6 linked regions of the Homo sapiens genome follow. The protein of the gene in region 6 interacts with the protein of the main gene of each other region in a pairwise test. Each region holds a gene or a part of one and is shown on either strand. Other genes may lie near its edges. The genes, in order: RIBC2, CDK16, C1orf94, CINP, MX2 and ATRIP.

Region 1 (5,165 bases), on a different chromosome or scaffold from region 6:
CAGCAGGGATGGGGACAAGCGGACAGTTCAAAATATATGCAGGAGGTAGAAGGGACAAGAGTCAGAGATGGCCTGGAGTCAGGGGTGGGTCATGGATGATTCCCTAGACTTCTGGTTTAAGGGCAGGAGGTACCAGTTAGTTGGAGGAGAAAGATGGAAAAAGGAGCAGATGCAGAAGAGGATCCAGGGCTGCTTTCCGACATGTTGTGAAGGGTCCTGTGAGATGTCAAGGAGACTGCTGAAGAACCAAGTCCACAGCTGAAACAAAGCCTTTTGGCCAGAGGTGGAAATTTAGACCACTTGGGAGATGGATGAACCATACAACACGTCAGTGATCAAGGCTATGGAGAAAAATTAAGCAACAGGATACGGAATGTGGGGTGGGAGGAGGGTACAGGGTTTAAAATAGGGGGGTCAGGGGAAGCCTCACTGATAAGATAGCACTTTAGCACAGCCCTGGAGGAGAGTGGTGATCCCTACAGATATCTGGGGAAAGACATTTCTAAGCAGAGGGAACAGCACATGCAAAGGCCCTGAGGCAGAAGTGAGCCTGATATACTCACGTCTGAAAACAGCAAGATAGTGTGGAAAGAATGGAGTGAGAGGGCAGCATAGCAGGAGATAAGGCCAGACTGTGAAGGCGTTGTAGGTCTCTGAAAAAAATCGTTTACTCTGAGTGAAATGTTTACTCTGTAGGATAAGGGGAGAGACCCAAAGAGCAGCTGAGAGATGCTTTTTGTTTGTTTGTTTCAGATGGAGTCTCACTCTCACCCAGGGTGGAGTGCAGTGGCACAATCTCAGCTCACTGCAAGCTCCGCCTCCCGGGTTCACGCCATTTTCCTGCCTCAGCCTCCCGAGTAGCTGGGACTACAGGCACCCGCCACCACTCCCGGCTAATTTTTTGTATTTTTAGTAGAGATGGGGTTTCACCGTGTTAGCCAGGATGGTCTTGATCTCCTGACCTCGTGATCTGCCCGCCTCAGCCTCCCAAAGTGCTGGGATTACAGGCATGAGCCACTGTGCCCGGTCTTTTTTTTTTTTGAGACAGGGTTTCACTCTGCTGGCCAGGCTGGAGGGCGGTGGCACAATCACGGCTCACTGTAGCCTTGACCTTCCAGGCTCAGTGATCCTCCTGCCTCAGCCTCCTGAGTAGCTGGGACTACATGGGCACGACACCATGCCCAGCTAACTTTTTAATTTTTTGTAGAGATGAGGTCTCACTTTGTTGCCCGGGCTGGCCTTGATCTCTTGGCTTCAAGTGATCTTTCCTCCTCAGCCTCCCAAAATGCCGAGATTACAGGCATGAGCCACTGCGCCCAGCCGAGAGATGCTGATAGCCTTAGTTCAGAATGGGAATGTTGGAGGGTGTGGAAAGTAGCTGAAAAATGGAGAGAAAGGAAGGAGTCAAGATTACCTGGGCTGGGGCCTGGGCAGCTAGAAGAAAGGAGCTGTCACGGATGTGGGTAGAAGGTCAGGTCTGCAGGGAAGAACAGAGTTATTGGACTCGTGCTGATCTTGACAAGTGCATTAGACATCCAAGAGAAGTTAGATGAATTTATGAGTCTGGATTCAGGGAAGAGTCCAGGCTGGAGGTATAAACCTGGGAAATGATGGCCTATAGGTGGCATTTAAAGCCATGAGACCGGACAAGATCACTCGGGTGAGTTTAGCTGGTAGAGGAGAGCACTGGTGTGAACAACATCCAGAGGTTGAGCAGATGAGAAACCAACAAAGGACCTGGATGGGAAGGGAGCTAATGTGAGAGTGGTGTTCTGAAAGCTGAATTGCATGCGCATTTCCAGGAGCAGGAGGTGATCGACTGTTAGGTCCAGATGAAGGTCAAAAACCGACCTTGGATTGGGCGACATGGAGGTCACTGGTGAGGTTGGCCAGGGCAGTTCCAGTGGAGCAGGGAGGGCATAAATCTGGTAGGAGTGGGAGAAGAATGGGAGAAGATGATCTGGGGAGACATCACTCATGGAGAGTAGACTGGGGAGAGAAGAGGCTTGGAGGAGGATGGGCCGAGCAAGGAGACTGCAAACTAACAAGCAGAGAGGAGGCGCTCAAGAAGGCGGAGTGCATTCCTCTCTGTGCCTGGTCCCTGTTTTGTCTTCCTCATAGCTCCTCACTATTCCATCACCCGCTGACACACCCCAAGAGAGCAGGGATGTTGTCGTCTTCGTTACCCGGTCTTTCCGGCACAGAAGTGGCTGGGCGGGTCAGTGCTGCTCGAGTGCAGGCATGAAGAGGAGCTGGGAGAGCAGAATGCTGCTGACCTCAGTGAGGACACATGGGGCTTTCTGCAGTTCCCTCAATGAGAGGCTGTTTCATGCCTTGGAGCCTTTGCCCAAGAGGTTCCCTGGGCTTGGGGAGTCCTGGTGAGGGCATGTGACCACCATGCCTGCAACTACACCCCCAAAGTCCCCTGTAGGAATTTCTACCACAGCACCCAAGAGACTCAGGAAGACCTGCATCTTTCCCATTCACCTTCCCCGCAGACTGGGAGGGCAGGGACCGATTCTGAGTTACCTCTGCACGCCGGCATCCAACTGGGACCCCGACACGGAAAGTGTTTTCCACATGACTGAGGTGTCATTGCAGGTGTTTCCCTCCTGGAGGGCAGGCTCTGACTTTTCTTTCCCCACAGGGCCAAAGTAGCATGTGGCTGTCTGTGCACATTGGTAGGACTTTAAACAAATCCCACAAAAACTGTAGGGTTGCTTAAAAAAAAAAAAAAACTGTAGGGTTGCTTAAAAAAAAAAAAAAACTGTAGGGTTGGTTTGTTGAAGAGAGCGTTGAGACCAGCTCGTCTCTTCTGTTTCATTACCTGCGCATTTTTGTTCAGCACGGGCGTTCTTCCATTCCCTTTGCTGCTGCAAAGACCATTCTCTGTTTTGTTCCTCTTGGAATTTCTTCCTCTCATGGAAGTTTAAATCCTCTCCCATGAATTTCTGCATTCCTGATATCGTATTCCGAACATCATTATCTGACTGCCGGGCTGGAAGATCTTTCTTAAGGGCTAGGGGGTCGGACAGATCAAATTCACGGCGAGTTTCTGGCTTCTGAAAGCTCTGTTGGAAGTCATTGATAGCCCTACAGAGATTTTTCCTATCCCTCTTTTTCCGGTTTTCCAATATGCACATGATTTTGTCATTTTGCCTCATTTCAGCAGCTGGAAGAGATACAGCATATCCATAAGCTTAGGATTCAGAGGAAAAAATAAATTTGAATCCATTTTATTTTTTATTATTTACTTTTTTAGAGATAGGGCCTCATTATGTTGCCTGGGCTGGTCTCCTGGCCTCCAACCATCTTTCTGCCTCAGCCTCCTGAGTCACTGGGATTATAGAAGTGAGCCACTGAACCCAGCCCATGAATCTACTTTAAAAACTAATTTTTTCAGTGATTGCAAAAGTAATACAACCCTCCAAAAAAGTAACACAGCCATTAAAGGATTAGTATCCTGAATATACAAAGAGTACCTACAAATCAATTAAAAAAACCCCAAAACCCCAACCCAATAAATGGGCAAAGTGTAGGAACGGCCAGGCAGATCACTATAAAGAAACCTGAGGCTGGGTGTGGTGGCTCACACCTGTAATCCCAACACTTTGGGAGCCCGAGGTGGGCGGATCACCTGAGATCAGGAGTATAAGACCAGCCTGACCAACATGGTGAAACCCTGTCTCTACTAAAAATTCAAAATTAGCCGGGCGTGGTGGCAGGAGCCTGTAGTCCCAGCTACTCGGGAGGCTGAGGCAAAAGAATCGCTTGAACCCAGGAGGCAGAGGTTGCTACGAGCCAAGATCACGCCGCTGCATTCCAGGCTGGGTTACAGAATGAGACTCTGTCTCAAAAAAAAAAAAAAAAAAAACCTGAGTAATCAATACAATTATGAAAGGATGATCACCCATACAAGGTGGGAAACATCCAATGAATCGAAGGCAAAATATTTAAAATGCTAATAATGGCACACATTAGTAAGGATGTGGGGAAACAAGATCTCTCATTTGCGGCCAGGCATGGTGGCTCACGCCTGTAATCCCAGCACTTTGGGAGGCCGAGGTGGGCGGATCACAAGGTCAAGAGATAGAGCTTATCCTGGCCAAGATGGTGAAACCCCGTCTCTACTAAAAATACAAAAATTAGCTGGGCTTGGTGGCACGTGCCTATAGTCACAGCTACTTGGGAGGCTGAGGCAGGAGAATCGCTTGAACCCGGGAGGCAGAGGTTGCAGTGAGCCGAGATCGCTCCACTGAACTCCAGCCTGGTGACAGAGCAAGACTCCATCTCAAAAACAAAACAAAACAAAACAAAAACCTCTCATTTGCTGCTTGTAGGAGTGTAACTTGGTACACTTACAACGAAACAATTTTTCAATATCCCATAAAACTACCTTTGATCCATCAATTCCACTTCTAGTTATCCCTTTCACATGTGCTAGGGACACAATTCTTGGACAGTCATTGCAGCAGTGTCCACAATGACAAAACAACTGAAAAAAAAAAATCTAAACCAGCCATCAGTATGGGAATGGATGAAGAAACTGTAGTTAATTCATATAACAAAATGCCATAAAACAATTAAAATGAATACTCTCTATATGTAAATCACTGATTAATTTCAAAAATACAAGCCTGGATGAAAGAAAAGCATACTGCAAATGGATCTATTCAATAGGATACCATTTACATAAATTTTAAAAACACATAAAAACAATTTTATATTGTTATGAATACATACATAAATAGTACAAGCATAAATAGTGCGTGGGGGCTGGGCCTGGTGGCTCATGCCTGTAATCCCAACACTTTGGGAGGCAGAGGCGGGAAGATCACCTGAGGTCAGGAGTTCGAGACCAGCCTGGCCAACATGGTGAAACCTCGTCTCTACTAAAAATACAAAAATCAGCCCAGCATGGTGGTGTGCACCTGTAATCCCAGCTACTCGGGAAGCTGAGACAGGAGAATTGCTTGAACCCAGGAGGCGGAGGTTGCGGTGAGCTGAGATCGCGCCACAGCTCTCCAGCCTGGAAGACAGAGCAAGACTCCATCTCAAAAGAAAATAGAAAAAAAAGCATGGGAATGATAAACACTTCTGAGGAGAAAGGAGGGGAAAATTAAGAGGTAGGGGGCAGGGCAGTGTTGTTATATATATATATATAT
Region 2 (5,165 bases), on a different chromosome or scaffold from region 6:
TTAGTGGACGAAGGGTAAAGGTGATGTGAGGTGTGAGTGTGTCCATGGACACAGGGAATGTGAGTCTCGAGGGCACACTAGGAAGGAGCAGGGTAATAGAAGTACTGGTGGTTGCTAATGTGGGTTTAGAGACATAGAGGCACTTCAATGTGTGCCATTTCGAGAGTCAGCTGTGTGAAGTCTGGAATATGCTAATAAGCATCAGAACCTTGTGAAGATTGTGCCCTTGTGTCCGCGGAGGACCAGAGTATGTTGAGGTTCCAGGGGGTGCTACTCGGGGGTAGGGCTGCGGAGGGGATCTAGTGTGTAATAAGGGGGATCAGGGCTTTCATGAAGGGATCTAAGTGTGAACCAACAAGGATTATATCTGTGGAGATATCTCTGAGCAGAGAGCAATAGAGGACAGGAATGTGTGATGATCTCGGTGTGCTAAAGTGGATTACAGCTAGGGAGGGCTGAAGTGTGTGCTAATGGGAGTCAGGGCTGAATGAGACCTGTGTGCACTAATGAGGGTCAGGCCATGGTAGAACAGTGTGTTTGTGTGTCCCTGCGGAATAGGGCTGAGTAAGGGTTCAGGGTGCACTAATGGGGAGGCAGGACTGTGTGAGGCCCGGCGTGTGCTAATAGAAATCAGGCCTGAGTGAAGACTCAGTTTGTGCTGACAGAGGGGACAGGACAGTGGAAGGACTGGAATGTGTGTTAAGGATGGTCGTAGCTGTGAAGGGGCCTGAGTGTGGGTAACACTGGTTAGAGATCTATCTGTAAGGTTCACTTTATGTTAATAGCATTCAGAGCAGCATGAAGAAGGTCCAGTGAGTGCTAATGTGGGTCAGCTATAGAGTACCCCAAGTGCATGTTAATAGAGGTCAGAATCATGTAGGGGGAACAGTACGTTAATGAGGGGAGTCAGTACTATGGAGAAGGTAACAAGCAGCTAGGCCAGGGAGGGGCCCAAGAATGTGGTGGCAAGAGTTACTTAGAGGAGGCTAAGTGTGTGCTGACAGAGTTCAGGGCGGTATGTTATGTGTTAGGGCTTTGAATGCTGATGGGTATATGAGATAATAGCAGGTAAGATGTAGTGAGGCCTCCTTGAGGGTCTAGCGTGTATTAATGGGGATCAGGACATAGGGTGCGATGACCAAGTCCTTAGTGGTTGGTGTGTTGAGTATCCTTGAGTATGAGAGTAGTCTGAGGATGGGTGTATGTCTTTGGGGATCAGGAAGGGTCAGGCAGGACATGTGCCTTTTTTGGGGTAAGGTTTTATGTCCAGTTTCTTGCTCCCTCCTTTTTTGAAATCTAAAAAGCTCATTCAACTGAAATGATATTTAAAAGTTTCCTTGCGTATAAATGTTCAATTATCTCTGTTCACAGGGGCATGTCTGAGACCCCCATCCCCCTTTCTGGGAGTGTTATGTGATATACAGATTTTACACCCCATCTTCCTAAAATCCCAAAAAACTGAACTCCAGAGCATGTCCAGCCCTTGGGGTTTCCAGTTAGAGGTCGTGGACCCATGGCTCCTCCTGGCTTCCTCCCCATCCTCCATTCAGCCCTACTTCCAGTCTCCCCCAGCCCCTCCCCTACTCCCTGTCACAACATGCAAAGCAACTGGGTATCTGTGCCATATGGGGACACAAGGTTGTCTTTGGGAGCTGGCCATGCTTTACCTTCCTTGCCTTAGGCCCAGTATTCAGCCTCCCAGGTCAGGATGTTTTGTGGTTATCCTGGGTTCTCCATGGATGGACCTCATCCTGTATCTGAGGTCTTTCTGCTAGGGTGGCCCCTACCCCTCCTGGGGATAGTGAGTTCAGCCAGGTGGGGGCGAGAACTGCTGGGGGAAGCACCTGATTTCAAGGTAGCAGATGACCCATTTCTCTCCTCAAATCCAGCCCCAGTCTCATCCTCGACCTCCTATCTAGCTCTACTTCCCTTGGGCCCAGGGCCATCTTAGGCCCTGCTGTGAGTCCAGATGGTTCCTGGGTCAGGTCTTTCCCCCTCCTTGCTGGCCCAGAGCCCAAGAGGAAGCAGAAGACGGCTGGCCTAAGCCTTTTGGTGGCCCCATTCCCTTCAGCAATCCATCTAGGTCATCTTCCTGTCGATGCCAGCATCCCTGGGCTACCTTGTTTAGGGTTGTTCAATGAATAGCAGGGACTCATCACCTCAGCAGAGGTTGGTCCTAGGCCCTCAGCCCCCTGATTCACTTATTTCTGCCATAAGCACTTTTTGAGCATCTACTCTGTGTCAGTCACTATTCCAGGTCCTCAGGATATAGCCGTGACCTAAACACAGAAATCTACCCTGGCGGAGCTGATCTTCTAGTTGTGGCGGTGAGGAGATAGACAGTAAAGACTAAAGAAACCAATAAGTAGGTGGTGTCATTTCTGAGGAGGTAATGAGTGCTGGGGGGATAACTGGCAAGGTGAGGGAGTTCGGGATGGTTGAGATTTTAAATAGGGTTATTCACAGAGGCCTCATGAAAAAGGTGACCTTTGAGCAATGGCCCAAAGGGAGAGGGGAGTGAGCCATTTCGAAATTTAGGGGAAGGGTGTTCCAGGTACCAGGAACAGCCAGTGTAAAGGCCCCGAGGTGGGACTCTACTGGGTGTGGTTGCAGAACAGCAACTAGGAATGATGGCGGGGGGGTGTGGGGGTGGGGGGGGGCCGTGGGCAAGAGGCAATAGGGGCAAATGAGGTAAAGAAACACCTGTGGGCCACATTGAGGACTGGGGCGTGTATTTGGGGTGATGAAAAATGTACATTCTTGAGTAGAGGAGAAATGTGACTTGGCTTGTAAAAGTCTAGATTGGACCCTAGGGGTCCTAACCTGATCAAACCGTTCTGGCAGCCCTGAGAAGAGCTGGTGTACACTGAGACCCCCCCGCCCTCCACACAATCCCACCCAGTGGTTGGGTCTGGGCAGGACACCCTGACACACGCTCCCCTCCCCCCCCCCACCTGGGTAGATGAATGGGATGATGCAGTGGTTGTCATGACGATGAGTGCTAGAGAAGTCAGGAAGAGGGTCCCTGTGGCCACAGGGAATAGTCTGCCTTGGCCTTTGAGGGTGGTGCTAGGGGAACTATGCCACTCTATGGCCGTGCTCGAGACCATGTCACCCATCCTTCAATTCTGGGCACACGCCCTGGCCGACCCATGGCTGGGCCCATCACTGCAGCTGTACCTGAGAAGATCTGCAATGGAGCCTTCTGCTCCTGCAGTGGGGCTTTTCCCCTAGATCCCAACAATCCATCGTTAGGGCCCTTGCCCTCAATCAGCCACCTAAATCTGAGAACTCAGGTGGGCTACGTAGGAGCAGGGTCCCAGTGGGGCTGGCTGTGTGGGTGGGCAGGTACTGACAAAGATCCCCATCCATGCTGGGTTTCCAGAACTCCTGAGTGGCTCTGGGGTCCATAGTGGTTGAGTGAGCACTGACAAGTTCATGTCAGTGCCCCCTGCTAGGCTGTGGGCTTTAGGGAACCCATGGTGATCAAGCAAATGCTAATAAGAGACCCATTTCCATCCTTGTCCCTTGCTCAGATCGCCATGGATCGGATGAAGAAGATCAAACGGCAGCTGTCAATGACACTCCGAGGTGGCCGAGGCATAGACAAGACCAATGGTGCCCCTGAGCAGATAGGCCTGGATGAGAGTGGTGGTGGTGGCGGCAGTGACCCTGGAGAGGCCCCCACACGTGCTGCTCCTGGGGAACTTCGTTCTGCACGGGGCCCACTCAGCTCTGCACCAGGTGGGTCCACTGGCTATCCCCTCTCCCATATGGCCCCAGGCTGCTTCCCAGGTGTTGCCTCCTGGTCACATTCCTCATTTTCCTCTAAATTTTCTGCCCTTTCTCTGCCCCCCATGTGCTCTCTTCTCCCCCTTCCCTCCCATCTTCTCTCAACACCGTCTGTCTATCTGTCCATCTGCGCTCCTCTTCTTGCCTTTCTGCCCAGGCCCCGTGGTGGGGGACAGAAGGTGCCTTGCCTGTCACAGCTGCCCCAAGGCTCCCTCTGCCCTTCTGCCCTCTATGATGGCCTCCTCAGTCCTCTGGTACCTGCCTGCCCTGGGCCTGCCTTCCCAGGACCCTTGGCTTCCCCTGCCACCACCTAGCTGCCGGCTCTGAGCTCAGCTTGCCCTTGGAAGGAAGGGTTCCACTAGGTGACTTTTGCTTCCCCACCCCCCAGTTCAACCTGCCCTAGATGTACCTGAGCTTCCCTGGGCTCAGGTACATCACCCTCTCCCCGAGGGACTCCAGGTTTCCTGTGGGGGCCACGTGCACACATGTGTGATGATGGAATATGTTTCGTGGGGGATGGGGTGTCCTGTGGTTCCTGACCCCACCTGGCCTGCCCTACCCCTCTCCCTGCCACCAGAGATTGTGCACGAGGACTTGAAGATGGGGTCTGATGGGGAGAGTGACCAGGCTTCAGCCACGTCCTCGGATGAGGTGCAGTCTCCAGTGAGAGTGCGTATGCGCAACCATCCCCCACGCAAGATCTCCACTGAGGTGCTTGACCCCGTCTGGATGGTGGAGGAACTGGAAAAGGGGGTTGGACCTGGGGAGGTGGAGCTCATGATCCTGTTTCTCTCTTGCCTTACCTGCTAGGACATCAACAAGCGCCTATCACTACCAGCTGACATCCGGCTGCCTGAGGGCTACCTGGAGAAGCTGACCCTCAATAGCCCCATCTTTGACAAGCCCCTCAGCCGCCGCCTCCGTCGTGTCAGCCTAGTAAGCACCTTCTGTTCCCGTCCTCTCCTTTTTCTTCTCTCCCAGACCCTTCTCCTGAGCCAGCTTTAACCTGCCTCATTTGTCCCACAGTCTGAGATTGGCTTTGGGAAACTGGAGACCTACATTAAGCTGGACAAACTGGGCGAGGTGAGAGGCAAATAGGAGGCCCATGGTGGGGATGAAGGTCAGTGGGAACTCCTGGAATCTCATAGCACCTCTCCTGTCACACTTCCTCACATTCCAGGGTACCTATGCCACCGTCTACAAAGGCAAAAGCAAGCTCACAGACAACCTTGTGGCACTCAAGGAGATCAGACTGGAACATGAAGAGGGGGCACCCTGCACCGCCATCCGGGAAGGTACACACCCCCATCCCATCTGCCCCAGGCTTCCCCAACCCACCCCTGGCGCACACACTCCATAATGAGAACAAAGAC
Region 3 (5,165 bases), on a different chromosome or scaffold from region 6:
AGGCCATTATTTAGGTTCAGGAAGATCCTGGTGAATCAGTGCAGGGATCAGTGCAGGGATCTCCCCACTGCTGGTGCTGTACATGAAGGGAGGCCCAGTCCAGAGGCTGTGATCGGGTCAGAGGCCATGCCAGAGTGAACATGAGTATCCAAGAGGCTACCGTATGAGATCCAGGGGCGGGGACCAACTAAGGCTGACAGTGGTGTAAACATGAGAGCTGACCTTTGAATCGCCCTTACTCTATGCCAGACACCATTCAAAGTGCTTTGCACCTCTATGATACTCCTAGTAATGAGAGGAGGAGACAGAATACCAAGATGCTGAACAACCTGCCCAGGGTCACACCGATGGGAGTTGACTGGATCAGGGTGTAAGCTTAGGCTGTCCACTCCACCATTCTGCAGTGAGGTGATGGGGGCTGCGCTACTCTCCTGGGGGCTTCCCAGGGCTCAGCCCCAGCACCCTAGACTCTGCACTTAGAGCTGTTGGCTTGCTCCTGACCCCTTTGCTGCTGGGCAAAATTCCCCAGTGAACCCCTTCTCTGGTCTTTCATTGCTTCAGGTTCTGAGCATGAAGAACAAGGAGGAATGGACTAGAATTAAGGCTCAGTGAGGCTGTGACTTGCCCCAGCTCACTCAGCAAGGTTGTTGGGAGAGGATCCAGGTTTCCCCATTTTTCAAAACCATGCTCTCAGTGCTGCATCCTACCGCTGTGGTATAGGACCCTCTGGGGGTCCAGTGTGTCTGCTGGGTTATCTTGCCTGGAAGTGTGTTTTTGTCATGTTATGCATCCATCTCCCTTTTCTGGGGCCTATGTCCTTCTGCAAAGCCACGCCTTGGTGAGCTGGCACTAACACCGTCTGTCTCTCTGACCCATTTCCAGAGCTCTGGAGCTCAGCAGTGGCAAAGATGAGATCTCCTTGTTGGTGGAACAGGAGTTCCTAAGCCTCACCAAAGAGCACTCGATCCTGGTCGAAGAGAGTTCTGGGGAGCTGGAGGTACCCGGCAGCTCTCCCGAGGGGACCAGAGAGCTGGCTCCCTGCATTCTTGCCCCTCCTCTAGTGGCAGGCAGTAATGAGCGCCCCAGAGCCTCCATCATTGTCGGAGACAAGCTTCTGAAGCAGAAGGTGGCCATGCCCGTTATCAGCAGCAGGCAGGACTGTGATTCTGCCACTTCTACTGTCACAGACATTCTGTGTGCCGCCGAGGTCAAGAGCAGCAAGGGGACAGAGGACAGGGGCCGCATCCTAGGTGACTCCAACTTGCAAGTCAGCAAGCTTCTGTCCCAGTTCCCACTGAAGTCCACTGAGACATCCAAGGTCCCTGACAACAAGAATGTGCTGGACAAGACAAGGGTCACCAAGGACTTCCTACAGGACAACCTGTTCAGTGGCCCTGGACCCAAGGAGCCCACAGGGCTGAGCCCATTTCTGCTGCTGCCTCCCCGACCTCCTCCTGCACGTCCTGACAAGCTCCCTGAGCTCCCTGCTCAGAAGAGGCAGCTCCCAGTGTTTGCCAAGATCTGTTCCAAGCCCAAGGCTGACCCTGCTGTGGAGAGGCACCACTTGATGGGTGAGTGGGGTTGGAACTGGGGTAGAGTGGGCCTGCAAGGAGGAGGTCCTTCCCAGGAAGCCAATCAGGGCTGCAGCATGTACATAAAGCATCTTCATGCAAAGCAAGACAAAGCAGCCTCTCTGGTGGGCACAGCCCCGAGGGACGGGCTGTTTCCAGCCCCCACAGGCTTATTTTGCTGGGTTCCCCTGTGCAGGGCACAGCTTTTGTAAGCAAACCCAGAGGCCCTGATCTCAACATACTTTGAGAAGAGAAATAGGCGCCATGTAGTAATTGGCTTAACTTTGGAATCAAACGGGTGTCCAGAGTACATTGAAGGAAGTGTTTACCCTAGCTGGGTTCAGGGTGAAACTACAGCATGGAGATGCCAAGATGTATAGAAGAGAAATTTGATTGGTAGCTGGGGTCATTTGGCATCTATCTCATGGAGGTACCTTGAGGACATGAGGCCTGGTCCTCCCTCTCTGGGGTATTGGGTAGATGCGTAAATTATCCAGGCATAGTGCAGACTGTTGACTCTGGGATCTGTTTCCTGGGACTTACTTTATTGAGGAGCTCACATTCTTCCCAGGAAAGCCAGCCACCTCCCAAGCTTCTCCTACTTTATGCCCAGGATTCTGTGTGTTGTTCTGATCTAACCAGTCAGACTATATGGTTCCAAGAAGGTAGGCTGATGGCCATGGCCATTGCCTAGAGTCAGCAGTCACTAAGAGAGTGATCATACTCATGTTAGCCAAAAGAACAATTTCCTCTGGGCTATGAGCATGGATGGATAACTGAGAGACACCCGTATTGGGAGGGTCCAAATTAATCTACCTGAGAAAATAAGAGCAAAGTCATCCTGAACATTCTGTGTCCTGGAGCATTGCAGGAAGGCCAAGGAATCAGAGCTGTGGATAGCAAGCTGAACTCTGGGTCCTGGACAGGCTTCTAGGAGCCAGAGGGCTTTAGGATGGGGAGCTGTAGGAGAGAGACGGTTGAGCTCTTCCCAGAGAGGAGACCTTCCTCCTACCTCTTCTCCAGAAGGGACCCATAGATATTTCCCTGTTGGATGGGGCTGCTGGACTGGAGGCAGTTCTGGTCCCACCCACCCCACCCACCATTGGTGCATGTCTGTGTGTACGAATGTGTGAGCAAAAGTGTGCCAAAAGGAGTTTTGAAGGTTTTAGTGTATTTGTTAGAGAAAATGCAAGAGTGGTGTGTCTAAGCATGTCTGTGTACACATTTGTGCATATGTCTGTCATGTATGTACTTGTGTATGTGTAACTAAGTCAAAGGAACAACAGATAGGAGTGTGTCTATGTCTGTGTGCCCAGACCTGGGACGAGGGAGCTTCGTAGATGTTTAAGGCATCTGTAAATATGAGTGGGAAGCTGCAGGTGTGTGTGTCTCTGGGGAAAGGGCTATTATCAGTGGGTACTGTTATTTCAGCTCACAGGCTAGGGGCTGAATTCGGCAACCGGAGGAACTCCTGGAAAAGACTCTAGGGATGTTTTGCTAAAAATGTTGTTTCCTTCTAAATTGGCTCAGGCTAGAGCAGCTCTTTCCTTTGCTGGAATAGTGCTAGGAAGACAGCCTTAGCCCCGAAGCTCAGCCCCCAAGCCGCTGGGCTAGGGGGCCAAAAGCTGGTGGGATCTGGTCTATTATTATCAACAGGTAACACTGAGGCACAGGTCCTTTCTGGCTGCATCCAGACAGATCCCGGTGCCTGCTATTGGGCAGCACAGTGCACAGCCATCTGGTGGGTGGCCAGGTTTCCCACCACTGCTGTGGAGGATCCTGTGATGGTCCCCAAAGTATGTCTGCATTGGGAGAATAAATGCTCAGTCTCTTTAGTGAGAAACCTGTGTCTGCCACCAATCTTGTCCCTGCTCCACACTCTAGCCATATCCAGTGACTCACAATGTCTCCTTGATGCTTCCAGGCCTTTGCCCACAGTTATCCCTGCCTGCCATGCCTTCCTCCCCAATACCCCTGGATGTAAGGCCTCGCTGCAACCCTACTTCCTTCTGGAAGGAACCTTCTCAGACAGAAGCAGCCTCAGCCACCCTGTTCTCCATTTCTTCCCTCTGCCACCTCATGGTGTTCATCTACCTTATCCTGGGGCTATTTCTGGGCATGTCTCTCTTTTTTTCTTGTTATGAGCTCCTGCAGGGCACAGTCTAGCTCTGACTCACAACTGTGTCCCCAGCACTCAGGTCAAGGCCTGGCACTGACAAGTGAGCTGAATCACCTGTGAGTAATAAAACAAAAGTAGAATCCAGAATGAGAGACCAAAGTGTGTGGCTCAGACCACATGTTCTGTAAGAATGTGTGACTCCTTCACTAAGCCATGTGCTCACTGAAGGCAGGAACTGTGTCCACAACATCCTTGTTTTCGCAGCCTGGCACTATGGATGGTTGGAGAGAAGGAATAGTGGAAGGAATGAGGAAAAGTAAGGAAGGAGAGGAAAGAAAAGAAAGGTAATTCGAATAAAGGAATGATGGAAGGAAGGATGAAGGGGTGGATGGATGGAAGGAAGGCAGGAAGATAAAGATGGATAGTCAGACAAATGGATGGACAGATGGATGGATGGATAAGTAGACGGATAGAAGGAAGAAAGGCAAAGATGATGGACAGATGGGTGGATGAATGAACAGATGGATGGATTGATGGATGCATGAGATCGGGGGGCAGGGGCCAGGGAGGGTTTCAGGGAGAGATTGGGATTGTATTTGGCTGAAAGAGAGTCCCCCAAAGTGGTCCAAGCCTCAGGTGTGTGCTGCAGAGGATTCATCATTTAGTCCACAAAAAGGTGCTTCCAGCATCCAGCACTTGGCCTTCCAGAGGCATTGACTCAGTTTCTTTCCTGCTACAGAATGGAGCCCTGGCACCAAGGAGCCAAAAAAGGGTCAAGGGAGCCTCTTTCTCAGCCAGTGGCCCCAGAGCCAGAAGGACGCCTGTGGTGAGGAGGGTTGCTGTGACGCAGTGGGCACCGCATCACTGACCCTGCCGCCCAAGAAACCTACATGTCCAGCCGAGAAGAACTTGCTCTATGAGTTCCTTGGGGCCACCAAGAACCCAAGCGGGCAGCCGAGACTTCGAAACAAAGTGGAAGTGGATGGGCCGGAGCTGAAATGTGAGCTGACCTACCCAGGGAGGGATTGGAGGGGAGGGGGTTGCAGTGACCCTCACAGGCTTCAGGGTGGCTCTGTCACCAAGTGGCTGTCTTATCTACTGCCTTTCTAGAGGTGTCAGTTTTTAAACCCATAAAATGGGGGCAATGACTTTCTCCCCATATCCCTTGTTGGGAATACAGTTGCTAGAGAAGTGTAGTTGGCTTTCAAGGGTCACGTCAGCATTATTAATGGTCACTTCTGAATATAGCCCTGACCCAGCATGTATTATATCCTCTCAAATTGCCCAAGCCAAAACAAAAGATCCTTGCTTTAGATTATTTCTATATTGAGATTATGTTCCCGCTTTCTTTTCCTACAAGGGTTCTAGTCAAACCTCTTTTCCCAAAAGGATGCCAATAAGGGGAAACTGAGGACCCATTTCTGATTTTATAAGCCCCCACAACATCTTGTAGAAAGGAAGAATCCAGGATTCTG
Region 4 (4,220 bases), on a different chromosome or scaffold from region 6:
GACGTGGTTATGCACACCTACAGTCCCAGCTACTCTGGAGGCTGAGGCAGGAGGATCACCTGAGCACAGGAGTTTGAGGTTGAGATTACAGTGAGCTACAATCATGCCACTGCATTCTAGCCTGGACAACAGAGCAAGACCCTGTATCTAAAAACACCAACAACATTATTGCTGGGCTGGGCAGTGCATGACTGTAGTCTCTGAGGAGACTAAGTAGGGAGGATCACTTGACCTCAGGAGTTTGACACTACTTGGGCCACATGGTAAGAGCCTATCTCATAAAAACCAAAAAACTAAAACTGCTGTTTATTAAGTATCACTCTATACACAGTCCCACAGAATATAAACAGTTTGGGATCAGAGAACTTACAAAAAGGCAAACGCAGATGTAGAAACCATGTAACAAGTAATGCCACAAAAAAGAGTTTAGGCTTTTGCAGGCTCGGCGCGGTGGCTCACGCCTGTAATCCTAGCATTTTGGGAGGGCGCGGTGGGTGGATCACGAGGTCAGGAGATGGAGACCATCTTGGCCAATGTGGTGAAACCCCGTCTCTACTAAAAATACAAACATTAGCTGGGTGTGGCGGCGCGTGCCTGTAGTCCCAACTACTCTGGAGGCTGAGGCATGAGAATCGCCTGAACCCAGGAGGCGGAGGTTGCAGTGAGCTTACATCGTGCCACTGCACACCAGCCTGGTGACAGAGCGAGACTCCATTAAAAAAAAAAAAAAAAGTAGGCTTTTGCATACCTTCACATTCTCCCCATGCCCTAGCTTTTGGCCAGTCTCTTCGGTCTGTTTCAAAACTGTCACCTTTCCCTCATTCTAACCTAGTATGTTAACTCTGGAAATGGCTGCAAACATTGTGAAACTCGAGGATTTGTGTCAGAAGAATGCCAGGGAAGGCAGTTTACATCGCTTGCCATGTCCCCAGTATGCAAACAGCGGCAATTTTTTTGTAGGTTATTTTCATTTTCATGATGTCAAACTTCATTTTAACTCCATGGGATCTTATTATTTAAGACGAAGTCTCACTCTGTCGCCCAGGCTGGAGTGCAATGGCTCACAGCAGCCTCTGCCTCCCGGTTCAAGCCATTCTCCTGCCTCAGCCTCTCAAGTAGCTGAGATTGCAGGCACGCGCCACCACGCCAGCTGATTTTTGTATTTTTAGTAGAGACAGGGTTTCATCATGTTGGTCAGGCTGGACTTGAATTCCGAACCTAAAGTGATCCGCCCACCTCGGCCTCCCAAAGTGCTGGGATTACAGGCATGAGCCACCGCACCTGGCCCAAAAACTAATATAGTCTCATAAAAACTTCAACAATCAGATAGGCATAAAGTAAAAATATTAAACCAGGGATTTTCTACACAAACATAATGTATAAAGCATGCCTAATTTATAGAAACTAGATCACTCACTCATTCTGCTCAGAAACTCATTGATTTTACTCTGAAGCACCCACGAATGACAGATTCCCAGGAGGGGCAGAGAAGGCTGAGCAGCACCACGTGGGGCTGGCCGCGGGTTGTGGGCATGAGCACGCCTGGAGAGGCCATGGGGCTGGTGACAAGCTCTGGCCAGAAGACCCCAAGGTCTGATCCTGGGGTCTGATCCAGGCCTGCGGCACTGGGTCCTAGGCAGACTGTCTGCCTGGTGAGACGTGGAAGGAGCCAGTGTCCGCAGCCGTCTCAGGACGTCAGAGAGCTCGGTGGCCTGTCTCCAGCAGCATGCTCTCCAGATGCAGCCTGCTGTCGCTCTCCACATAGGGCTGGTGCAGCCACATGGACAGGTAGCTCAGGGTGAGGTCGGGATCCCCGGTGTGGGCAAGCTCCTTGGCCACCGTGCGCTTCAGGAGCAGCTCCTTCCTGTACATCTCCAAGAGCTTATGCGAAACCTCATCTGAAAGAAACGTGAATCTCCCTTAATGGCAGTGATTCAAGAACATAGTGTCGACTTGGGAAGAACTACATTTTAACAGCTCTTGATTAAAAACCAGAATCAGCAACAGCACTGAGGGGAAGAAGGGCCCGATGGAGTTTACTACTCTAGCTGGTGCAGATTAGTACAATTTGATAACATGGTCAGCAGAGTGAAATAAAAAGTGTATACAAGCCGGGCGTGGTGGCCCACACCTGTAATCCCAGCACTTTGGGAGGCCCAAGTGGGTGGATCACCTGAGTTCAGGAGTTTGAGAACAGCCTAGCCATCGTGGCGAAAACCTGTCTCTACTAAAAAATACAAAAACTAGCCAGGTGTGGTGGCACGCACCTGTAATCTCAGCTACTTGGGAGGCTGAGGCACGAGAATCGCTTGTGCCTGGGAGGCGGAGGCTGTAGTGAGCCAAGATTGCACCACTACACTCCAGCAGGCGTGACAGAGCGAGACTCTGTCTCAAAAAAAGTATATATAACCTTTTCTACTTGACTCTTAGGTGACCTACAGTGATTATCAGTAGGAGATTCCCCTCAAACTGACAATATTTCACTAAACACATTCCACTAGGTGATTTTACCCTTTCCTGCCTTATTTAAAAAGTCTCAGGTCAACATCAAATAGCTTACCCTTGTCTTGAACTAATAAAAGCTAAAAGTAACCCTTTAAGAAGCGCCTCATAGAGTTTACTGAAGCCATGGGTTTCATTTTTCCCAGTCATCTTCCATGAGGTTGGCTGCAGTGACCCTCAATTTGTTTTTTAATTAAAACAAAAAACAAAAGAAAAACCTCAACAAACCAAAAAAACTCCTTTCTTCCTTTCCCCCCCTCAAAATGAGAGATATCTGCTTCCACAGAGGAGGTGGAATTCACTCTGCCCATTGGTTTTAGAGGCCTAATAACAGCAGCTTGCTTCACGGGTCTCTATGTTTCATATACTCTGCTGATAACCAGGTAATTAAAGCCAAGAAGAAATGTTTAAGATGCCTCTGTCTCCTTTCCTCCCGATACTTTTGCATTGAATTTGAAAGCCTTGTCAGCTTCTTAAAGTACCAGATGTAAACGATACTAAATGCCCTTAATAACCTTTACCCTCCTGAAAATCAACTGAGAAGGAACTACTTACAGAAATGGGTTGTAGGCCACGTGTGGAACAGAGGGGGTCGTTTACTCTCCTCCCCATAATGGTAGTTTTCTAGTTCACAAATTCCCTTGGTAGTTGAAGACAGCTTTTCCATTTTCACCTGTATTTTGGTCTGAAAGATATCCATTTGGAATATGATAATATTATTTGAAATCTCCAGTCTCAGATTTAATAACTCTAAGATTTCAAAGCTAAGAAGTGTAAGTCTATTATGATAAAAATTCCAATAACTAAACACTGTTAACTCTACGTACAGCAAATTCCCAGGGAGATGAAGGTGGACAGTTGCTATGATTTCATTAATTTGAATGACTTTGGTAATAAACCCCAGATTTCCAGTCCTAGAGCAAGAAAGGTTTCCGAGTGCCATTTCACTAGGATTTCCAAACAGCATTAATGTCTTAGACCCAAAGACCTGGAGGAATCCCAAGGCAGGCTCTTGCTGCCTTTTTTTTTTTTTCTTTTTTTTTTTGCGACAGGGTCTCATTCTGTGTGGCATGATCATGCCTTATGCAGCCTCAACCGCTGGCACCTCAGCCTCCCAAGTAGCTGGGATCACAGGTGTGCACCACCACACCCAGCTAATTTTTTTTAATTTGTGGAGACAGGGTCTCGTTATGTTGCCCAGGCTGGTCTCTAACTCCTGGGCTCCAGCAATCCTCCCGCCTCAGCCTCCCAAAGTGCTGGGATTATACAGGCATGCGCCACCGCGCCTGGCTGGCTCTTGCTGCTTTTAAGAAGTGAGAGAGAAAGGCATCAAATGAGCTCGTTTCTGATGCTCTCTCTCTCTCTCTTTTATCAAATGAGCTCGTTTCTGAGGCTCTCTGTCTCTCTATCAAATGAGCTCGTTTCTGATGTTCTCTCTCTCTCTCTTTTTTTTTTTTTTTTTTGAGACGGAGTCTTGCTCTGTTGCCAAGCTGGAGTGCAGTGCCAGGCTGGAGTGCAGTGGCGAGATCTCGGTTCACTACAACCTCTGATTCCCTGGTTCAAGCGATTCTCCTGCCTCAGCCTCCCAAGTAGCTGGGATTGCAGGCATGTGCCACCACGCCCAGCTAATTTGTGTATTTTTAGTAGAGACGGGGTTTCACCATGTTGGCCAGGCTGGTCTTGATCTCCTGAACTCGTGATCCGCCCACCTCGGCCGC
Region 5 (5,631 bases), on a different chromosome or scaffold from region 6:
TTGCAGTAAGCAGAAATCTCACCACTGTACTCCAGCCTGGGCAACAGAGCGAGACTCCATCTCAAGCAAACAAAAAAGAAACAAAGAGCCAGGTCACACGGACAATGACAGGGTGGAGTTCCACTCCAAGGTGCACCCGCTGCTCCTGTGCTCTGCTGGGAGGGACACACCCCAGGTAAGAACCCTGCTTGTCTACAGCACTTCACCATTGCCTTTGTCCTGTTAATTCAGGAAAGCATTTGCTTGATCTTTCCTTCTGTGATTGGAGAGGCCATGGGAGAGTGGATGCATGCTGGCTCTGGATGGCTCCAGGTGCTGCAGGTGCTTCCAGGTGGCCAGGAACTTCATCAGCACACAGAGGCGCTGGCGCTTTCCATAGAGTCAGCGTGCCAGGGCAGGAGGCGGGCACTGGGGCTTCTGGACTTCGCCTCTTTACCAAGCTGCACACTGTAACGCTCCCTGATGTGGAGCTGAGGGAAGAGCTCCGCCCAGCGGCTGTGACCGAGGCCTGAGCAGCAGCATCTTTTCTGGCCCCGGCCCCTGTGCTTGGATGCTGCGTGGGACATTCATTCACCCTCAGGGCTTTAGTGCTCAGAACGCAAGAACCCTGTCCTTGAAGTTTGCATGCGCAGGCACCTCTGGTCCTTCCCAGGGCTGCTGGTGAGGGGCGTGCAGGAGGGGGATGCTGCCTTGACAGAGGGTGGAGGGTCCCCTGAGCTGGCCCGAGCTGCTCGTGTCCCTCTGTCCGGCTTCTCTGAGGCCTTTCTTTGTGCCTTCCTTGAAGCAGTAGGCCGGCCCAGGCCCTGTTGTGAAAGACATTCCTAGTGAAACCGAATGTCACATCACGCTGCCAAGTCTGAGATTCACATTCCTCCCCTCACTCCTCAGCCTCTGTCCGCCCGGGCTCTTGGGAAGAGAAGTGGTTCAGGGATAGGTGATCCTGACGATGATCTCCTGGTGTTAATATTTCTAATGCCAAGGTTTTGAAAAACATGTTAAGTTTCTAAATATCTTCCGTAAAGTTAAGCCTGCACTCAAGGGAAGTCACTACAATGACTTAGCCAAGAGGAGCTCAGGAGTTTTTTTAAACGTATAGTGTTGATGTCTGGGAGAGGATCACGGGTGGATAGGAGAGCTGAGAGCCTGCTTCCTCCCTCCCAGCCATCACTGCCAGTCCTTGAGAGGCTTGGTCCCCTCCCCGGTGTCTGGAGGGCTCCTCCTGGAGGTTCCCAGACCTCTTGGCTCTGGTGATGGGAATGCCTGGCCCTCCTTGACTTTGGTCACAGAGCAGGAAGCCTTAGGGAGCATGCGGTTGTGCACCTTCACTTTTGCAGGTGAAAAGTAACTGAGGACCAGAAAGATGACATGCAGCTGGCTCAGGGCTGAGTTCCGGAGCCTGGGGTTTGTCCTGGGGCCTCCTTATCTCCAATGGGAAGAAAACCGTCTTGGTTTTGCGGCGGGGACCTCAGGCACGGGTGCTTGGAGAAAGCTGTTGACCCTCCTTCTTTGGGTTTTCCGCACCTAATGAGGGGAGAGGTGACATTTGTCAGGTGCGGCTCAGGCATGAAGCTAAGCAGGACAGCTCAGAGCGTCCAGATCATGTACCTGAGAGCATGTCCTCGGCTGTAACAGGAGTGCATCTGTGAGGCCCGATACACGAACCACACGTGGCTATTCATTCAAATTACATGGAGTTCGAAGTCCAGTTCCTTGGTCGCAGTAGTCACATTTCAGAGCCACACAGGTGGTACTGGATGGCACTGTCAGGGCAGAACCTTCCAGTGACTGAGCCACTCTGAGCTGCCCCCATGCCAGCCTCCCCTGGAATCTGTTAGCAATGCTGATTCTCAGGCCCAGCCCAGACCTGACAGATCAGACTCTCTGGCGGGGGTGGGGGGACAGCCGCCCCGTCTCCACAGCTCTCCCAGGATTCGGATGCAGCTGGAGTTTGGGGACCACTCTGTGAGTCATCTGGAGAGCACGCTGATAACTCAGTTTCATTTCTGTGGCCAGATCAAGTAGTTTCATTTCTCTCCCTGTTTGTTGATGACGGAGCAGGGGAGGGAGTGGTTCATATGCCACATAAAAGTGAAGTGGAGGAAAGGGAAGAGATGATTTCTCCATCCTGAACGTGCAGCGGTAAGAGCGGGGCCGGTGCAGGGAGGGCTGCTTTGTGTCTGATGCACAGCAGATGCGTGTTTAAAAAATATTTCCTGAGTAACGTGACATCTGCTTGGTGAATGTGGCTTGTGCTGGGAGGCAGGAGCCACAAAGATAAGATTCTGGTGTGAGGAGCAGAAAGGGCCCATGTTGCCACCAGCCCACAGTAGCCTTGTGCACAGACAAAGAGGCTCTGGAGGGGAAGTGGCTGGCCCTGGGGACAGGGTGGCCTCCATCCTGATCTGGCCAAAAGTCGGGTGGACGCAAAGGGGTGGTTTTTAGGACAGCTTTGCTCAGCGTCCTACAAAGTCTGGGGGTTGAGTAAGGAGCTTTGTGCCCGAAAAGTCGTCTCGGAGGGTTTCAAGTGTTCCTTCTTTTGTGGTATTTGTGATGCTCTGACGTAACCTTAGTGACGGTGATATGCTGGGAAATTGGCTCTCATGGGGCGGGGCAGGGCAGAGGGTGGTGCCTGATTTCTAGCCTTTGCCGATTCTCTTCCGTTCTCATGGTGTGAATGCTCCCACCGTGGCCAGTTCCCAGCCAGTAGGGGCCAACTCCAGCACTCTGGACCACTGCACCCTGGATCGCCTGCACTCTGGGGGCTGAAGTCCATTTTATAATTGATATAGAGCGGAAAGGAGACATGGTGGTATTGATGACGCAGTTTTTTTTTCTTTTTTTTTTTTTTTTTTTTTTTTTTGAGAGAAGTTCTCGTTCTGTTCCCCAGGCTGGAGTGCAGTGGCGTGATCATGGCTCACTGCAGTCTCAAGCTCCCGGGCTCAAGGGATCCTCCCACCTCAGCCTCCCAAGTAGCTGGGACTACAGGTGTGCACCACCACACCTGGTTAATTTTATTTCTTTTTGTAGAGACAGGGGCTCTCTATGTTGCCCAGGCTGGTCTCAAACTCACTGGCTCAAGAAGTCCTTACGCCTCAACCTCCCAAAGCACTGGGATTACAGGCGTAAGCCACCCCATTCGGCTTTGATGACACCTTTTGAACACTGTTCTTTCTCATTTTGTGTTTAGAATGTTGTCTCTAGCTGTTTAAAAAGATCAGGATTCCAAGCTATCTTTCCTCGCACCCTCTCCTCCGTTTACTCTGCTCTACTTCCCAGCCCCGCGCCAACCCCTGAAGCACTTTTGACTCCCTTCGGATGTACAATTTTTTTTTCTTTTTCTTTTTTGAGACAGGGTCTTCCTGCTCTGTTTCCCAGGCTGGAGTGCAATGGTACCATCATAGCTCACTGCAGCCTTAAACTTCCGGGCTCAAGTGATCCTCCTGCCTCGGCCTCCCAATGCATTGGGATTACAGGTGTGAGTCCCTGCGTCTGGCCAGGATGTATGTGAGCTTTATTTAGGTTTAGCCCCTGCCCTAGAATGCAAGCTCCCCCAGAGATCTTTGTCTGCCTGACTCGATATGTATCTCAAGGACTTAGTGCTCAATATATATCTTTGAGTGGGTGAAAAACAAGCGGTCTTAAAAAGAAAGGAGGTGAGCCCGGGGAGATAAGGTCGCATTCAGTGCCAGTGCTTGGTCAGCCATGACCCTGCACCATGCGAGTGACATTGGGACTGGAGCAAAGGGACACAGCAGAGTGGCCCCTGGTGCCCAGGACCCGGCAGAGCTCTCGGACTGGTTGCAAGCCAGCAATAGTGGCTATGCCCGTGTGGGAGACGCAGCTTGCCTTAGACTTCAGCGGGAACCACCATGTCCGGCACAGCCATTTCCATCCTTCCCAGGGGTGCTTACGTGATCCTGGCAGTCTCAGTCAAACTTCCAAACTCAGCAGGGAATGTGTGTGCTTGTCCTCCAATCTCAACACCCTGGGATGCAGTGTCAGGTGCAGGTCAGAGACAGCAGTGGAGACCCGATTCCCAGCCCTGGGCTGGGGCCCCCACAAGGCCTCCAGCATCTCCCCATGGCCCAGTTTCCTCATCTGCAGGACAGGCTCTCTTGAGAATTTGGGGGGATGATAGACCCAAAAGCATTCTGGAGCCAGAGGCTTCTGCCTTCGTCGGGGGCATCAGGGAGTGTCAGTCATGAATTCACCATGACTTCTGACCACCTCTGCCTGGACTCCCTCACCTCAGTGCTGCCTAAGCTGGGTAACCACCAGCTTCCTGGGCCTTCACCCCGCAGGGCCTTCCTCTCCAGTGATGCGCCTGGAAAGAGGGATTTCTCTTTGCAAAGGTCTCTGGAATTGCCAAGTTATGGCTTTAAGCATATGTAGGGAAACTCCCTCCCCTTTGCACTTTTGGAGTTTTTTTCCAGCCCTCAATAGAAATCAATACAGTGACCAGGCTGCCCTTTTCACCACACTCTCAGGCTCCTGAGGACCCTGGTGGAAGATGGACTAAGCACATCCTGGGCATCGGGGACAGGCACCGGCTCCTCAAGCGTGGACAGGGACAGGGATGGGGCGGGGCAGCGCTGCAGGAGGTGGGGCCTGGGCTGATTTTCTTGCTGTACTACTTTCAGTCACTACGTACCTGTTATGGGTTGAACTAGGCTCCCTGTATTAGTCAGAGTTCTCTAGAGGGACAGAACTAATGGAATATAAAAAAATAAATATATACATATATATGGAAGTTTACTAAGTATGAATTTACAGGATCACAAGGTCCACAATAAGCAATCTGCAGCCTGAGGAGCAAGGGGAGCCAGTGTGAGTCCCAAAACCTGAAGAACTTGGAGTCCAATGTTCGAGGGCAGGAAGCATCCAGCACAGGAGAAAGCTGTAGGCTGGGAGGCTAAACCAGTCTCTCTTTTCACATTTTTCAGCCTGCTTTATATTCTAGCTTTGCTGACAGCTGATTAGATGGTGCCCACCTAGACTGAAGGTGGATCTGCCTTTCCAAGCCACTGACTCAAATGTTAATCTCCTTTGGCAACACCTCACAGACACACCCAGGATCAGTACTTTGCATCCTTCAACCCAATCAAGTTGACACTCAGTATTAACCATCACACCCCTCAAATGTATATGTTCAAATCCTAACCTCAGAACCTCTGAATGTGACCTTAGTTGGAAATAGGGTCTTTGCAGATGTAATTAAAGACGAGGTTGTTTTCCAGTAGGGTGGGCCCTAATCCAATATGACTGGTATCCTTATAAAACAGGAAAATTTGTTTGTTTGTTTGTTTGTTTGTTTGTTTAACTTCTATTTTAGGTTCAGGGGTCCATGTGCAGGTTTGTTACATGGGTAGATTGTGTCATGGGAGTTTAGTGCACACATTATTTCATCACTCGGGTAATAAGCGTAGTAGCCAATGGATAGCTTTTTGCTCCTCTCCTTCCTCCCACCCTCTACCCTTGAGTAGGCTCAGGTGTCTCTTGTTCTCTTCTTTGTGGCCATGTGTGTTTAATGTTTAGCTCCCACTAATAATTGAGAACATGTGGTATTTGGTTTTCTGTTACTAGATTAGTTTGCTTAGGATTATGGCCTCCAGTTCCATCCATGTTCCTGCA
Region 6 (5,165 bases):
CCACTGTTACTGGCTAATTCCAGGGATTTTGATCCAAATTATTGAAAATTCTTTTACTCATTTTTATATTTTTCTAATCATCCAAAAATATAATATTAGCCATAATTCCTTTACTATTCTTTATTATCACTATTTACAATTCCACCAAAACATTTTTTTTTGAGACAGAGTCTTGTTCCATTGCCCAGGCTGGAGTACAGTAGCATGATCATAGCTCACTGCAGCCTTGACCTCCTGGGCTCAAGCAATCCACCCATCTGTAATCCCAGCCTCCTGAGTAGCTGGGATTACAGGCACACATCAACATGGCCAGCTAATTTTTTTTTTTTTTTTTTGGTGAGACAGGGTCTCACTCTGTTGCCCATGCTGGAGCCCAGTGGCACAATTACGGCTCACTGCAGCCTCCACCTCTTGGGCTTAGTGATCTTCCCACCTCATCCTTCTGAGTAGCACAGGGACTACAGATGTGCAACCACCACATCTGGCTAACTTTTTATTCTTTCTAGAGATAGAGTTATTTCTAGAGATAGAGTTTCACCATGTTGCCTAGGCTAGTCCTGAACTCGTGGGCTCAAATGATCTGCCCACCTCAGCTTCCCAAAATGCTGGGATTACAGGCGTGAGCCACTGGGGCCAGTAATTTTATTTTTTTTTTAAGTAGCAATGGGGTTTTGCTATGTTGCCCAGGCTGGTCTCGAACTGCTAGCCTTAAGCAATCTTCCTGCCTTAGCCTCCTGTGTAGCTGGGATTGCCTCTGTAGCTACCATGCCTGGTGCAAAACATCTTTTCAATGTGGAACAAACTATTTTTTTTTCTGGAATGGAGTCTTGTTCTGTTGCCCAGGCTGGAGTGCAGTGGTGTGATCCTGGCTCACTGCAACCTCTGCCTCCAGGTTTGAGTGATTCTCCTGCCTCAGCCTCCCAAATAGCTGGGATTACAGGCGCATGCCACCATGCCCAGCTAATTTTTATATTTTCAGTAGAGACAGGGTTTCATCATGTTGGCCAGGTTGGTCTTGAACTACTGACCTCAAGTGATCTGCCCGCCTCATCCTCCCAAAGTGTTGGGATTACAGGTGTGAGCCACTGCACCCAGCCAATGTGGAACAAACGATTTTTTAATAGTCACAAGACTTCCAGGCTGGGCACAGTGGCTCACCCTTGTAATCCCAACAATTTGGGAGGCTGAGGTGGGTGGATCACCTGAAGTCAGGAGTTCGAGAGCAGCTTGGCCAACATGGTGAAATCCCATCTCTACTTAAAAAAAAAATACAAAAAAACTAGCCTGGTGTGGTGGTATGTGCCTGTAATCCCAGCTACTTGGGAGGCTGAGACAGGAGAATCACTTGAACCCGGGAGGTGGAGGTTGCAGTGAGCTGAGATCATGTGACTACACTCCAGCCTGGACAACAGAGTGAGACTCTGTCTCAAAAAAAAAAGACTTCCAATAGAATGCAAAGACTTTAAATAGAAAAAGGGCTATCAAAATAAATATCATAATTTTGATAAACCTACTAGGTATGTTGAAAACTGAGCAACTTAGTGCCAATGTCTTTATGGTAGAGAAGCAGTATTAACTCTCTGATCTGATCATATAATGCTGAGGTCTTTCTGTTACTGATGTGTGAAGAGGATCCCCTCAGTTCTCTTGTCTTATGTGGACAATGCAAGGCATGGAGAGTTCAGTTTCACACACTGCCCATTATGAACAAAGGCGGTAGAAAGTTCAAAACCAGAAGATGCCCTGACTGACACTGTTCAAATTTCCAGGCTGCGCCAGGCACAGTGGCTCATGCTTGTAATCCCAGTAGTTTGGGAGGCCCAGGCTGGCAAATCATTTGAGTCCAGGAGTTTGAGACGAGCCTGGCCAACATGGTGAAACTCCGTCTCTACTAAAAATACAAAAATTAGCTGGGCGTGGTGGTGTGTGCCTGTAGTCCCAGCTACTCAGGAGGCTGAAGGAGGAGAATTGCTTGAACCCAGGAGGCGGAGGTTGCAGTGAGCCGAGATTGTACCACTGTACTCCAGCCTGGGTGACAGAGCGAGACTCTGTCTCAAAAAAAAAAGAAAAAAAAAACAAGTTGAGCACATCTGACCACAAAGGATGGGGCTGTTGGACAAGGGTCCCCAGAAAGCAAATGAGAAAAAAATATTCCAAGTAGCTGGAACTAAAATACACCCATGCTTGCAACAAAATCAGTTAAACAAATTACATAAAAGTAGAGACTAGCCCACCCCCAAAATTTGGAGATCATTTTTCCAGGTCTTTCTAGTCCTGAAGAATTATGTTTATAAAGTGCCATACAGAGGCAGCATTTCTAGAGTATAGGCCTTTATGCTGTGATGTCTCAAACCATGCAAGCTTCATCTAAACCACCTCTGAATCCTTCAGGAAAAGAGGATCTCTGCCCAGGTGGAGGGGTCTAAATGGCCTTCATTTAGGACCAGCCTGACACTGTTATGCAGATTTTTTACTAAATAATGCAAAACTGAACTATCCCTCCAGCACCATCATTACCTGACATGGGAAACAGAGGGAGCAGCCAGTTTATTTGCTCGTTCACTGGTCTGGAGCTTTGTCCTTAATTCATTCATCTCTGCATCTTTAAACTGGAGTTCAGACTGCAATGATTGGAGCTGGAAGGCAAAAGAAACATGCTTGTAGTGGTCCCATCATATACACAAAAATATCTCTGGGCTTCAAAATCACAAGCCAGTAAAAGACAAACAATGAAAAATACATATGAAAGTCTGCTGTGACATAAATGTCCTAAAATATTAAACATTAGCTTTCTTTCTGAAAGACAATATGGTACTCTAAAAAGATACTGGACTCTATTGTAAGGGTAGTTTGTGAGGGTTTAAATACCAGCCCTGGCCGGGTGTGGTGGTTCAGGCCTGTAATCCTAAGCACTTTGGGAGGTTGAGGCGGGAGGATCATTTGAGCCCAGGAGTTCGAGACCAGCCTGGGCAAAATAGCAAGATCTTGCCTCTACAAAAAATTTAAAAAATAAAAAAAAGAATTAAATACCAGCCCACCATTTATTTAATGTCTTTGAATCCTAACTTATTTGTAACATAAAACACCTGTCTTCATGATAGTTGGGAGGATTAAGTAGAATGATGAGTGTAAAATACCCAGCATAGAGCTTGGTAAGGTGCCCTATGTCAGCAGTAACATATTGACCTTTATTAACGAACGCACTGGTGCACAATTCCAGGTCTTCCTCAAAGTTTGGGCAGAGTAGTTGGAATAGTTTACCAAGACACTGTGCAGTATAGAGAGACCTGCTGCTCTGGCCTGCAGTTGCTACAGCCAACAGTAACTGCCATCATTCCCCAAGCACACTCTGCGCCAGGCCCAGCACCAGACACAGTAAGTGCAAGAATGTGTGAGTCTCCCAACAACCTTTCTGGTTATGTCTTGGAACAGATAAGGGAAATGAGCCAGGGAGCTTAAGTTATTACCTTGAGGTCACTGCTTATGTGTGATGAAGCCTGGATTCAAATTCAGGTTTGTCTGACCGCAAATTCCTTGCTCTTCATCACTTATACAGAAAGTTAACTATTGCGGTTAATGATGGGCACAGGTAAGTGCTTAAAGTTTGCTAAGTTTGCTGAATGAAACAATGAGAATAAGATCCCATGTCCTTGAGATTGAAGCATGAGGAGGTGCTGAGGGAAAGTTGTAGTAGGTACTGGATACCTACTGTTTTTCCTTCCAGAATAGCATTTTCCTTTCCCTGAGAAACAGGCTGGGCATTGTGGCTCACGCCTGTAATCTCAGCACTTTGGAAGGCCAAGGTGGGAGGACTGCATGAGCCCAGGAGCTTGAGAACGGCTTGGAGAATACAGCAAAACCCTGTCTGTACCAAAATTTAAAAATTAGCTTTGCCTGGTGGTGTGTGCCTATAGTTCCAGCTACCTGGGAGGCTGAGATGGGAGGATTGCTTGAGCCTGGGAGGTCAAGGCTGCAGTGAGCTGTGATTGCACCACTGCACTCCAGCCTGGGCAAGAGAGTGAAACCCTGGACCCTGTCTCAAAAAAAAAAAAAAAAAAAAAAAAATTCAATAATTTCCCTACCTCTGACTATTTTATTAGAATGGGAGCTGTCATTTTTTTGCTTTTGGTTGCTTTTGGTTATAGCAATTGGCCAGGGACAGACAACTGACTCAAGTTAAACCAATCAGAGCCTTTCTCAGAATTTTAAAACTTGAGATGAGGGAGCCTAAGTCTTTTTTTGAAACAGGGTCTCGCTCTATTGCCCAGGCTGGAGTACAATGGCATGATCATGGCTTACTGCAGCCTCAACCTCCTGGGCTCAAGCAATTCTCCCACCTCAGCCTCCTGAGTAGCTGGGACTACAGGTGCACACCACCATGCCTGGATAATTTTGTTCATTTTTTCTTTTTCTTTTTTGTGGAGATGAGGTCTCACTAGTTGCCCAGGCTGGTCTCGAACTCCTGGCTCAAGTAATCCTCTCACCTCAGCCTCCCAAAGTGCTGGATTATAGGTGTGAGCCACTGCATGTGGCCCTAAGTCTTAATTCTGCTCTGTATTTATAAAATATGAGCCCAGGAGCTTCTGGAGAACACACCCTCTACCATAAGTATAGAGCCTGTTTATAGCATAGAGAATAAAAATGTCCTGGCAAGATTTAAGTCATTTAAGGTCCCAGCATACCCCGGTTCTTCCCAGACTTGGATATGGAAGCCAATACGTTTCCTTTTAGCCTAAGCCAGGTCAGTTGAGTTTCTGATCTAGCAAAAGAGCCTTAATGTAAACCTGTTTCTAGAAATGCTAAGCTAGTTATTTACTCCTGCCAAGACCAACTACCACAGCAAAATAGAGTTTCATCTAAATCCCTTTCCAAAATATATCCAGACCCTGGAAGAAGAGTGGATGGCAATGAGATGATAGCAGAAAGTATTTAAGACAAACAAGTGTTGAAATCTCCCTGGAAGATTTACAGGCAACCCTGGTCAAAGGAACTCAGTGGGCAGGCAAAGCTGGTGCAAAACAAATGCTCTGGGTCACCTTTTTGGAGAATTCCTTTTCCTTGTCACTGAGTGCTTGGGTTTTCTCTTGCTCAAGAAGAAAATGTGATCTTCTCTGTTCCTCTAGAACGGATTCCGTCTGATGTAGTGAGTCTCGCAAAATTTTAAT

The links.
Region 1: the proteins of ATRIP (region 6) and RIBC2 interact in a two-hybrid assay, tested with the Homo sapiens proteins (one large-scale study listed by IntAct).
Region 2: the proteins of ATRIP (region 6) and CDK16 interact in a two-hybrid assay, tested with the Homo sapiens proteins (one large-scale study listed by BioGRID).
Region 3: the proteins of ATRIP (region 6) and C1orf94 interact in binary tests that used the Homo sapiens proteins (3 or more experiments, as listed by UniProt).
Region 4: the proteins of ATRIP (region 6) and CINP interact in binary tests that used the Homo sapiens proteins (3 or more experiments, as listed by UniProt).
Region 5: the proteins of ATRIP (region 6) and MX2 interact in binary tests that used the Homo sapiens proteins (3 or more experiments, as listed by UniProt).

The regions. Positions count from the first base shown.
Region 1 is NC_000022.11:45,415,609-45,420,773, reverse strand, and holds part of RIBC2 (RIB43A-like with coiled-coils protein 2), read right to left. Parts: intron 3,173-5,165; coding exon 2,828-3,172; intron 2,811-2,827; exon of another isoform or gene 2,597-2,810; coding exon of another isoform or gene 2,530-2,596; intron 1,478-2,529; coding exon of another isoform or gene 1,452-1,477; exon of another isoform or gene 1,415-1,451; intron 1-1,414. UniProt on the Homo sapiens protein: Microtubule inner protein (MIP) part of the dynein-decorated doublet microtubules (DMTs) in cilia axoneme, which is required for motile cilia beating.
Region 2 is NC_000023.11:47,220,016-47,225,180, forward strand, and holds part of CDK16 (cyclin-dependent kinase 16), read left to right. Parts: intron 1-269; exon of another isoform or gene 270-2,245; coding exon of another isoform or gene 2,246-2,327; exon of another isoform or gene 2,328-2,365; intron 2,366-3,035; exon of another isoform or gene 3,036-3,080; coding exon of another isoform or gene 3,081-3,296; intron 3,297-3,536; coding exon of another isoform or gene 3,537-3,542; coding exon 3,543-3,744; intron 3,745-4,369; coding exon 4,370-4,503; intron 4,504-4,602; coding exon 4,603-4,728; intron 4,729-4,818; coding exon 4,819-4,875; intron 4,876-4,972; coding exon 4,973-5,087; intron 5,088-5,165. UniProt on the Homo sapiens protein: Protein kinase that plays a role in vesicle-mediated transport processes and exocytosis. Regulates GH1 release by brain neurons. Phosphorylates NSF, and thereby regulates NSF oligomerization. Required for normal spermatogenesis.
Region 3 is NC_000001.11:34,196,343-34,201,507, forward strand, and holds part of C1orf94 (uncharacterized protein C1orf94), read left to right. Parts: intron 1-882; coding exon 883-1,571; intron 1,572-4,429; coding exon 4,430-4,690; intron 4,691-5,165.
Region 4 is NC_000014.9:102,346,862-102,351,081, forward strand, and holds the end of CINP (cyclin-dependent kinase 2-interacting protein), read right to left. Parts: intron 3,188-4,220; coding exon 3,058-3,187; intron 1,899-3,057; coding exon 1,696-1,898; 3' UTR 1,421-1,695; downstream 1-1,420. UniProt on the Homo sapiens protein: Component of the DNA replication complex, which interacts with two kinases, CDK2 and CDC7, thereby providing a functional and physical link between CDK2 and CDC7 during firing of the origins of replication.
Region 5 is NC_000021.9:41,359,917-41,365,547, forward strand, and holds the start of MX2 (interferon-induced GTP-binding protein Mx2), read left to right. Parts: upstream 1-2,110; 5' UTR 2,111-2,139; intron 2,140-3,100; exon of another isoform or gene 3,101-3,500; intron 3,501-5,631.
Region 6 is NC_000003.12:48,451,771-48,456,935, reverse strand, and holds part of ATRIP (ATR-interacting protein), read right to left. Parts: coding exon 5,037-5,165; intron 2,637-5,036; coding exon 2,518-2,636; intron 1-2,517. UniProt on the Homo sapiens protein: Required for checkpoint signaling after DNA damage. Required for ATR expression, possibly by stabilizing the protein.